3 linked regions of the Homo sapiens genome follow. Changing the gene in region 3 together with the main gene of any one other region gives a genetic interaction. Each region holds a gene or a part of one and is shown on either strand. Other genes may lie near its edges.

The links.
Region 1: changes in SMARCB1 (region 3) and ROR1 together harm fitness more than expected from each alone (negative genetic interaction), as found in Homo sapiens cells (one large-scale study listed by BioGRID).
Region 2: changes in SMARCB1 (region 3) and SMARCA4 together harm fitness more than expected from each alone (negative genetic interaction), as found in Homo sapiens cells (one large-scale study listed by BioGRID).

What each region holds. Positions count from the first base shown.
Region 1 is NC_000001.11:64,175,947-64,179,087, forward strand, and holds part of ROR1 (inactive tyrosine-protein kinase transmembrane receptor ROR1 isoform 1 precursor), read left to right. Parts: intron 1-1,481; coding exon 1,482-2,909; 3' UTR 2,910-3,141. UniProt on the Homo sapiens protein: Has very low kinase activity in vitro and is unlikely to function as a tyrosine kinase in vivo. Receptor for ligand WNT5A which activate downstream NFkB signaling pathway and may result in the inhibition of WNT3A-mediated signaling.
Region 2 is NC_000019.10:11,058,467-11,062,116, forward strand, and holds part of SMARCA4 (SWI/SNF-related matrix-associated actin-dependent regulator of chromatin subfamily A member 4), read left to right. Parts: intron 1-321; coding exon 322-423; intron 424-1,286; coding exon 1,287-1,419; intron 1,420-1,578; coding exon 1,579-1,721; intron 1,722-3,317; coding exon 3,318-3,350; 3' UTR 3,351-3,650. UniProt on the Homo sapiens protein: ATPase involved in transcriptional activation and repression of select genes by chromatin remodeling (alteration of DNA-nucleosome topology).
Region 3 is NC_000022.11:23,831,892-23,835,313, reverse strand, and holds part of SMARCB1 (SWI/SNF-related matrix-associated actin-dependent regulator of chromatin subfamily B member 1), read right to left. Parts: intron 1,743-3,422; coding exon 1,611-1,742; intron 1,174-1,610; coding exon 1,134-1,173; 3' UTR 488-1,133; coding exon of another isoform or gene 335-487; 3' UTR 1-334. Other genes in the region: DERL3 (derlin-3), read left to right, coding at 335-487.

The sequences.
Region 1 (3,141 bases), on a different chromosome or scaffold from region 3:
TTTAAAAAATAAGGATTTGAAGGATGGGGATTATTTGAAAAATCAGTTGTATGTAAAATGCATTGTTTTTATTACTTTCTTTTCTAACAAATTAAATGAAACATCAGACTAAATTTGAGGTACATTTTAAAATAGTAAAAACATATAACATTATAGACATTTACTTGCCAAGATCAAATGTCATGATTCAATACTTATTTTCATTGTGAGCTAATGCCTTCACCTGTCTGTCTTAAGGTCAATTAATAAACAACCCACTTGCGAAGACCTAGGGATATACGTTGGTATGAAGGGCAGTGCTTCCAATAAGATTTCCCTTGAAATCTCGTTGTGAGGACAAAATACATGCATAAAAAGAACAGAAACATCAAGTTGATAATAATAACAAAAAGTTAAATAGTACTTACCATGGGCCAGACATAGGTCTGAGTGCTTTACAAACTTTAACTCATAGGTCTGAGTGCTTTACAAACATTAACTCATTAAAAGTTTGCAATAACATGGTAAGTACAATTATTATCATCCCATTTTATAGATGAAGGAATTGAGGCAAAAGTTAAATGTTGTATCTGGGGTCACACAGCTGGTAAGTGGAGAAGGCAGGATTCCAACTCAGACTGGCTATGGAGGCCACTTGTGTAACCAGCCACCACACTGCTTTGTGTATGTGGTGGCATTCACAGTAAAGGCAAAAGAGTCTAGCAAAGAAATGACCATAGTGGTCAGGGAAGGTTTTGCGGGAAGTGGGGCCTGAAACAGGCTTTTTAGAAAACAAAGGATTTAATCAATGGAGAAGACCGCATTTCAGACCTTCCCATCTCTATTGTGAGTACTTCAGAAGGACAATCTTTTGTTTTGGTTTCTCTTTTAGCACAATAAATATTCGAAGAATGGCAGAACATTGGAGGAACAAAAGTATTAGGCAAGAATGTAAATGGTTTCAGGAGTGGACATTGAGAAAACCTATTTAACTAAAGTGATGCCATCACACAGAGAAGTAGCAAGGGATCATGTCAGGAAAGTGAGTTAGGACCAGATTACAAATGCTCTGAGTACCAGGCTGTAGCCTCTGTGGTAGTGCTTCTGACACCCTAATCTTCACAGAAACCACTGGGGTCTTGTTAAATGCACATGCAGATTCAGTAGGTCTGAGGTGGGCCCAAGAGTCTGCATTTGCAGTAAGTTTGGGTGATGCTGATGTTGCTGGTCCCCAGACCACAGTTTGAGTACCAAGACTCTAGACAACAGCAAAAAACCATTTTGTGGCTGGGTTGAGGGAAAGGGATAGGGTAGTGATGGAAAGTTGTCTATGGCACCTCCCCTGAGTTGCAGCCAACGATTTGAAAGATATATAGACCTACAATATTTTATTGAATTTGTTTATAGAACCTTTTTCTATATGCCCCGTCCCTCCTTTCGGATGCAAAGCTGTCTTGCCTGAAGATATGTTTTAAACCACGTTTTTCCTCTCTTTCATACAGAGCAAGGCTAAAGAGCTACCTCTTTCTGCTGTACGCTTTATGGAAGAATTGGGTGAGTGTGCCTTTGGAAAAATCTATAAAGGCCATCTCTATCTCCCAGGCATGGACCATGCTCAGCTGGTTGCTATCAAGACCTTGAAAGACTATAACAACCCCCAGCAATGGACGGAATTTCAACAAGAAGCCTCCCTAATGGCAGAACTGCACCACCCCAATATTGTCTGCCTTCTAGGTGCCGTCACTCAGGAACAACCTGTGTGCATGCTTTTTGAGTATATTAATCAGGGGGATCTCCATGAGTTCCTCATCATGAGATCCCCACACTCTGATGTTGGCTGCAGCAGTGATGAAGATGGGACTGTGAAATCCAGCCTGGACCACGGAGATTTTCTGCACATTGCAATTCAGATTGCAGCTGGCATGGAATACCTGTCTAGTCACTTCTTTGTCCACAAGGACCTTGCAGCTCGCAATATTTTAATCGGAGAGCAACTTCATGTAAAGATTTCAGACTTGGGGCTTTCCAGAGAAATTTACTCCGCTGATTACTACAGGGTCCAGAGTAAGTCCTTGCTGCCCATTCGCTGGATGCCCCCTGAAGCCATCATGTATGGCAAATTCTCTTCTGATTCAGATATCTGGTCCTTTGGGGTTGTCTTGTGGGAGATTTTCAGTTTTGGACTCCAGCCATATTATGGATTCAGTAACCAGGAAGTGATTGAGATGGTGAGAAAACGGCAGCTCTTACCATGCTCTGAAGACTGCCCACCCAGAATGTACAGCCTCATGACAGAGTGCTGGAATGAGATTCCTTCTAGGAGACCAAGATTTAAAGATATTCACGTCCGGCTTCGGTCCTGGGAGGGACTCTCAAGTCACACAAGCTCTACTACTCCTTCAGGGGGAAATGCCACCACACAGACAACCTCCCTCAGTGCCAGCCCAGTGAGTAATCTCAGTAACCCCAGATATCCTAATTACATGTTCCCGAGCCAGGGTATTACACCACAGGGCCAGATTGCTGGTTTCATTGGCCCGCCAATACCTCAGAACCAGCGATTCATTCCCATCAATGGATACCCAATACCTCCTGGATATGCAGCGTTTCCAGCTGCCCACTACCAGCCAACAGGTCCTCCCAGAGTGATTCAGCACTGCCCACCTCCCAAGAGTCGGTCCCCAAGCAGTGCCAGTGGGTCGACTAGCACTGGCCATGTGACTAGCTTGCCCTCATCAGGATCCAATCAGGAAGCAAATATTCCTTTACTACCACACATGTCAATTCCAAATCATCCTGGTGGAATGGGTATCACCGTTTTTGGCAACAAATCTCAAAAACCCTACAAAATTGACTCAAAGCAAGCATCTTTACTAGGAGACGCCAATATTCATGGACACACCGAATCTATGATTTCTGCAGAACTGTAAAATGCACAACTTTTGTAAATGTGGTATACAGGACAAACTAGACGGCCGTAGAAAAGATTTATATTCAAATGTTTTTATTAAAGTAAGGTTCTCATTTAGCAGACATCGCAACAAGTACCTTCTGTGAAGTTTCACTGTGTCTTACCAAGCAGGACAGACACTCGGCCAGAAAAAAAAAAAAAAAAAAAAAACAAGCAAACAAAAACATTGTGGGATGTGCACTCCATTGGAG
Region 2 (3,650 bases), on a different chromosome or scaffold from region 3:
ACCACCTAGGCGGTGCCTTGGGCTACCTGGTTAGGGACCTGGTCGTGGGCTTTTGGGGTTCCTTGTAAGGGTTGGGGGTGTCCTGAGGGATGTCAGTGGGCAGTCGGTGTTGGGTGTTCCTTCAAGGTCCCACTCACTTAGTGCTGGGCCTCAGTCATGCAGTTCCCATGCCTAGTGAGCCAGGTTACCGAGGCTGGCGCTTCGGCCACATCCTCATAGGCACGAGGAATCCTAGCCCGTGGGGTCTCCAGCACACAGCCAGGCCTGCGGGCAGGCGAGGCGGGGTCCTGAGGTAAGACCTGCTCCTCCCGTCCACTGCAGGAGCGCATTCGCAACCACAAGTACCGCAGCCTCAACGACCTAGAGAAGGACGTCATGCTCCTGTGCCAGAACGCACAGACCTTCAACCTGGAGGGCTCCCTGGTGAGGGCACCGCTGGGGGTTGGGGATGGGCCACTCCCACAGCTGGGCTTTGACCCAACCCGCCCCTCCTTCCCTTCTGAATTGATGGGTTAAAAACAAGTCCCGCTAGCTGTGGTGGTTCGTGCCTGTAATCCCAGCACTTTGGGAGGCCAAGGCGGGAGGATCACTTGAGACCAGGAGTTCACGACCAGCCTGGGCAACATAACAAGACCCTGTCTTTAAAAAAAAAAAAGAAAAAATTAAAAATTTCCAACTTGGGATATTTTAGCAATTACAAAAGCAGTATGTATTTACCGAAGAAAATAAAGATAGGCACAACAGAAGAAATAGACTCAGAGTCCTCTGTCTGTTGGAATTTTATTTTAAATTCCCTGGGGCACATTCTCTTCAAAGGAATCCTGTGGGTTTGTTCTTTCCTGTGATAGAATTGACACATACACAGCCTCAACTTGGCAAACTTTCTTAAGTGTCTTTGGGATTGATTCCTCTCAGAAAAAAGACTTGACTTTGATGAGTTTGGGAAAGATGCTGGCTTCAACAAGGGGCATGTATTTCCAATGTTATTGCAGACCTCAGAGATTGTGCAGAAGGAGGGAGGCACCTGCAGCTATTCCCAAACCAGTGTGCCTGACCTTTCACCCTGGAGCATTTCAGAAGTCTGATGCTCGGGCCCCTATGGAGGAAGATTATGGAGAGGGCCTTCCACCCTGGGTGGGCTGAAGCCCCGACCCGCTGAGGCTCGCATTGGCCACTGATCAGCTGTCCAGGGGCAACACAGGGCTGGGGCTGGGGCTGGGGCCAGGGCCGGGCAGGCAGCCCTCCAGTCGGGCCCATCCACTCAAGCCCCTGGTGTCTCTGCCCAGATCTATGAAGACTCCATCGTCTTGCAGTCGGTCTTCACCAGCGTGCGGCAGAAAATCGAGAAGGAGGATGACAGTGAAGGCGAGGAGAGTGAGGAGGAGGAAGAGGGCGAGGAGGAAGGCTCCGAATCCGAATGTGAGTCCCGGGGGGGTTCAGGACGCCGGGGTTCACGCTGGCCCGAGAGCCCCCAAGGCCCCAGCTTTTCACAGCCCTCCCGGCTCCCAGACGCCCCTTGCTGTGGGGGTGCTGCATTCCCAGAGCTCAAGGCTGTCTTTCCCTCCCGGTCCCCTCCAGCTCGGTCCGTCAAAGTGAAGATCAAGCTTGGCCGGAAGGAGAAGGCACAGGACCGGCTGAAGGGCGGCCGGCGGCGGCCGAGCCGAGGGTCCCGAGCCAAGCCGGTCGTGAGTGACGATGACAGTGAGGAGGAACAAGAGGAGGTGAGGCCGGGCCCCCGAGCAGGCAGAGCTGGCATGTGGCAGGAGGCATCCCGGGGCCCTGATGGGACAGCCCTGTGGGGCGGTGCTCCCACGCCCCCACGCTGCAGGTGGGAAAGCTGAGGCTTGACCTGCCATGGCTGACCCCAGGTCACACAGCCAGTATGTGGCAGGGCTGCCACTCAAAGCCAAGCCTGTGTGACCCCGGAACCAGCTCTCAGTACCCGTGGGTGTCTGGGGACTGGGGGACACGTGAGTCCTCAGGACAGGCAGCAGGCGGTCCCAGGGCACCAGGGCTCCTGGGCTGAGGCCGGGCAGGCCAGGGCTTGATTAGGGTTGGGTAGGAGGTGCTAGGATTGGGGACCCACCAGACAGTGCCCCGTCTCCTCAGTGGCATAGAGAATGGGCAGAAACGCCAAGACCACAGTGGATAGTTTTTGGGGTGCAGTGGGGAGCCGGAGAAGATCCACTTGCTGGCTTTAAATAATCTCACCTCTGTCTCTGGCCCTTCCTGGCTGTGGGACCTGGCAGGTCACTTTGCTTCTCAAGCTTCAGTTTCCTCTTATGCAAAGCAAGGAGGCTGCATGGATTAGGGGGCTGCCCCCACCGAAGGGCCTGGCTCCCGCTGAAGCCCAGCGAATGCCATTTTGTCATCACAGAAGCAGCAAATTTCAGTGCCTGGGAATTAGTCTGACGAAAGACGCACGTGACGTTTGAGGACATTCATGAAGTCCTCATGTGGAGGGGAGGCCCCTGTGTCAGGCAGGAGGGTCTGGGCTGTGATGCTGTCTCTCTTGCCTAATCCAGAGCAGGGTGTTTTATGGCCCATGCCAGGCTGTTTAAAAAGGTTTTATGAGGCCAGGTCCAGTGGCTCACACCTGTAATCCCAGCACTTTGGGAAACTGAGGCAGGAGGCTCACTTGAGCCTGGGAGGTCGAGGCTGCAGTGAGCCGTGATAGCACCACTGCACTCCAGCCTGGGCAACAGAGCAAGACCCTGTCTTTAAAAAAAAAAAAAAAAATATATATATATATATATATATATATATATATATATATGAAAGAGCAAAGATCTTTCACAGTCAGGAAGAACCAAGATGGTTTGGAAGCTGTAGGTCAGGGGCCAAGGGCCAGGCAGGTGACATGGGACAGAGCAGGGAAGGCACGTGGAGCCTCGAAGGTCCCGAGAGGGCCGAGTGTGGTCACAGGGACTCGTCCTGTAGAGAAACATGAAGTTTGGGCATGGCCATGGCGCCATCTCGGCTCACTGCAAGCTCCACCCCCCGGGATCGCGCCATTCTCCTGCCTCAGCCTCCCAAGTAGCTGGGACTACAGGCGCCCGCCACCACGCCCGGCTAATTTTTTGTATTTTTTAGTAGAGACGGGGTTTCACCGTGTTAGCCAGGATGGTCTCGATCTCCTGACCTCGTGATCCGCCCGCCTTGGCCTTCCAAAGTGCTGGGATTACGGGCGTGAGCCACCGTGCCCGGCCCACATCAGTGTTTTCTTGAGCAAGTTTATTTAAAGTTTGGCAGGTCCCTGGCAAGGTGCCCTGGCAGGGGTGGCCAACGCACACTCTCTCCTCCTGTCCCCTCTCCAGGACCGCTCAGGAAGTGGCAGCGAAGAAGACTGAGCCCCGACATTCCAGTCTCGACCCCGAGCCCCTCGTTCCAGAGCTGAGATGGCATAGGCCTTAGCAGTAACGGGTAGCAGCAGATGTAGTTTCAGACTTGGAGTAAAACTGTATAAACAAAAGAATCTTCCATATTTATACAGCAGAGAAGCTGTAGGACTGTTTGTGACTGGCCCTGTCCTGGCATCAGTAGCATCTGTAACAGCATTAACTGTCTTAAAGAGAGAGAGAGAGAATTCCGAATTGGGGAACACACGATACCTGTTTTTCTTTTCCGTTGCTGGCAGTACTGTTGCGCCG
Region 3 (3,422 bases):
TTCAGTAAGGCTGGAGCTGCGAGCCAGTTTGCTGCCCTCCCAGATCCTGTGTCCATTCTGAAGAATGGGGACACCTCCCTATTACAGATGAGAACAGAGGGGACATGAACTCCTTGGAGGCAGGGCTGGGAAGGGACCCTGGGCTGTGTCTCCTCCCTGTACCGTGTCAACTCCAAGAGCTGGCACCAGGCCGGGAGGGCTATTCCCATATTCCTCACAGCTGGCTTGTAAGGCAGGAGCTGGCCCAGGCCACAGCACCTGCTGGGGTGGGAAAGGGCCCCAGCTGACCTGGCTATGGGTGCCACTGGAGCTAGAACAGCCCTCCTGCACCCAGGCTGGCGACAGCCCAGCAGTGCCCACACAGGACTGGGCCCTCCGCAGGGGACTTCAGAGCAGCAAGGCCCCAGCTGGCAGTAGCCTGACCATCTGGACACAGCAGAGCCAGGGCGGCCCAGGGACGGCAGGAGAGCTCGCGGCACCTTCCTGAGGCCAAGCAAGGGGAGCAGGGTTAGGGCTGTTCCTGAAAGGCAGAGAGCCTCTTGCCCTGAGCCTCACAGCTACTCTTCTCAGCTCTCTGGGTCTGGAAGGAGAACAGGCTGAGGGGAGCTGAGAGGAGCTGAGGTGCTACCCGGAGCCCCATTCACCCCCACCTGCCCACTTGGGAATCTGAGGCAGAGGAGGGTGAGGCCTGTGTGCCAACCTTGTTCACATACCACCTTCGTCCCCCCAGGCCCCGGCCCCACTCCTGGCTCTCATTATTTTTATGTTAAAACTTTGAAGAAATTGAACATGACCTGTTGAAGAAATTGAACATGACCTGTTGCCTTTTATTTAAAAACTGTTACTAGCCCTGCCTGGGGCTCCTATACAAAAACAAAACACAACCTAAAATAAGGTTTCTTCCTGACCCCAGAGACTGGGGAGGGGTAGGGAGGGTGGGGTGGGGGGCAGGACTGGGGCTCAACAAATGGAATGTGTGCCGGGAAGGGCCACCTGGAAGCCCCCACTCCACCCCCACCCGATCCTCAGGATGGCGCTGGGCTGTCCCCTCGCCTCTGTCCTTGCCAGAAGATGGAGGAGAGGCGGCCCAATCTTCTGAGATGCTCCGTGGGAGCCGTGTGCTGATGGGCTGGTTACCAGGCCGGGGCCGTGTTGGCAAGACGCCTCATCCGCCTGGAAGAGGAGTGGGGAGGGCAATGAGTCGGGGCCAGCTCCCAGCCTGGGCGCTGCCCTTCCCAAGGCTCTACAGGGCAGCCAAGTGTAGGGGTGGGAACAGAGGCAGGATGTGGGCCCCCAGCAGGGTCAGACCCAGCCTTCTCTCAGCCTCGCCTGTCTGCCACTCAGGCCCTGCTCATCACTCCAGGGACCCCAAAACCTGGATCTGGGCTGTGGTCAGACCCTCAGCCTGAGGAATTATGTTTGTTCCATGCAGGGAAACATACCCTGGCGTTTGGATGGGGCCTTATCACCCAGAAGCCTGCCTGCCTCTAGCAGCACTAGAGGTACTCTGTCTCAGAGACCATGGGAGACTGGGAAAGGCAATGGCCCTGCCTCTGCCTGGAAAGCCAGGTGCCTGTGGGCAGAGCCCAGGACCACAGGGCCAGGGGTACCTCGTGTTCCTGTCCTGGTCGCGGATCTTCTTCTCCATCTCAGCGTCTGTCAGAGTCTCCAGCAGTGGGCACCACTGGTCCGCATCGCCCGTGTTCCGGATGGCAATCTCCACTGTGGGCAGAGGGTTCTCGCTACGAGGAGGGGAGGCAGTGAGAGGAATGACTTTTCCAGCTATAGATGGAGAATCCTCAGAAAGCTTTGGCCCCTGTCTGTGCCCTGCTCCTCCCAGCAGCACTGCTGGCACCCAGTGGATGCTCCAGTCACCTGAACCTCAAGGGAGCTGCTGGAGGCGCCAGGGCCTTTCCATAACAAGTGTTGTCGCCATGACCCCATGGGCTTCCCTTCAAAGTGAACTTTCAACAGGGCTTTTGTGCCCAGCGTCTCTCTGTCTCTGAGATGGAGGAAGGGGCCACTGGCTGTGGAGGTGGTCCTTGACAGGACAGCACGGGCTGGACCATGCTGATGCCACAGTGCCAGTCAGGAGGTGGAACCTATAGGGGCAGGAGGACTGTCTGCTCCACTCAGTGTCCAGAGCCAGGGCCCACTGATCAGGGAAAGGGGATGGATGGCGAATGGGAGCAAAGGAGTCTCCCAGAAGTCCCCAGCCCCCCACTACTGAGGGCCACTGCACAGCCTGTTCCTGCATGTTCCACACACTTGCCCCTCAGCCCACCTCCTGGCCGAACAAAACCCCCGAGAGGCTGGTCTGTGCTTAGGATCAGACAGCTGTCTGGCAGGGAGCTGGACAGAAGCCGTATCCCCGGACCACACTCTGCCCTGGGTCTCACAAGGACCACCCAAATCTGCCCCGAGGTACCTTCCTCTTGCCAAAAGGACACAGCAGAGGAAGGGGGCAGCAAGGGCAGAGGCTAAACAGGCATGGGGTGGGCACAGGAGTGCTGGGGAGGTGGGAGGGTGGCTGGCTGCCGCCTCTCTGGGCTTTGATTTGCAAGTCTGTGACAGGACACTAAGGAGACCACAGCTGTGGATGCCACAGGGCCCGTGTGCCTCCCACATGCAGTGGTCCCGTCACCCCCACCTCTGAGAGCAGCTTTGGGTGCTGACAGTGTTTCCCAGTTGAGTGACACCAGACCCCTGGCTTGGCAGAAGGCCTCAGCCTGAGGTCCTAACCATGACTCTCCCACTTCCCCTCCCCTCTCTGTGGTCCTTTCCTTTCTCCTCCACTTGGGCACCTCCACTTGGCTCTCCCTAGGCTCAGTCCCCTGGGAGAAGGACACCCTGCCAGCCTGCGGCCCTGAAAAACACCATGAGCTCTGGGAGAAGCAAGGGCAGGCCGGACTCGGGGGAGGCGCCAGGTGGACACTGATAGAGAGGACAGGTCCCTGCAAACCTCATCTGGAATATGGAAACATTTATTGCTGTGAAGGGCTTTGGAAGGATGACTGTTATTAAAGCAGCCAAAACATCTCCACTGAGGGAGCTTCCTAGGGGCCAGGGACCTTCTCACAGCCTCCCTGTAGTGGGTGGCTCAAGGTTGTGGGACCAGCCTGCTTGCAGAGCGAGTCCCGGCTCTGCACATCCACACCAGTGAGCACACACCCAGCTCCAGTAGCCGTGAGCCCGTTCCAGGTTGGGCTCAGTGCTGCTCTCCTCAGCCTGGGGTCTCAGGGACTGTGGGCACAGCGCAGGGCACTGGCTGCAGCTGGCTCTCCCTGCAGCAGGCCTGACCCCTCACAGCTGAAGCTCAGCCCACCAGGTCCATGCTCATGAGTCGCAGAAGCTCAAGCTCGTACTGGTGACGCAGAGGCAGGGCCAGAGGCAATGTCGGCACCCCCACCCTCTGGGGCTGA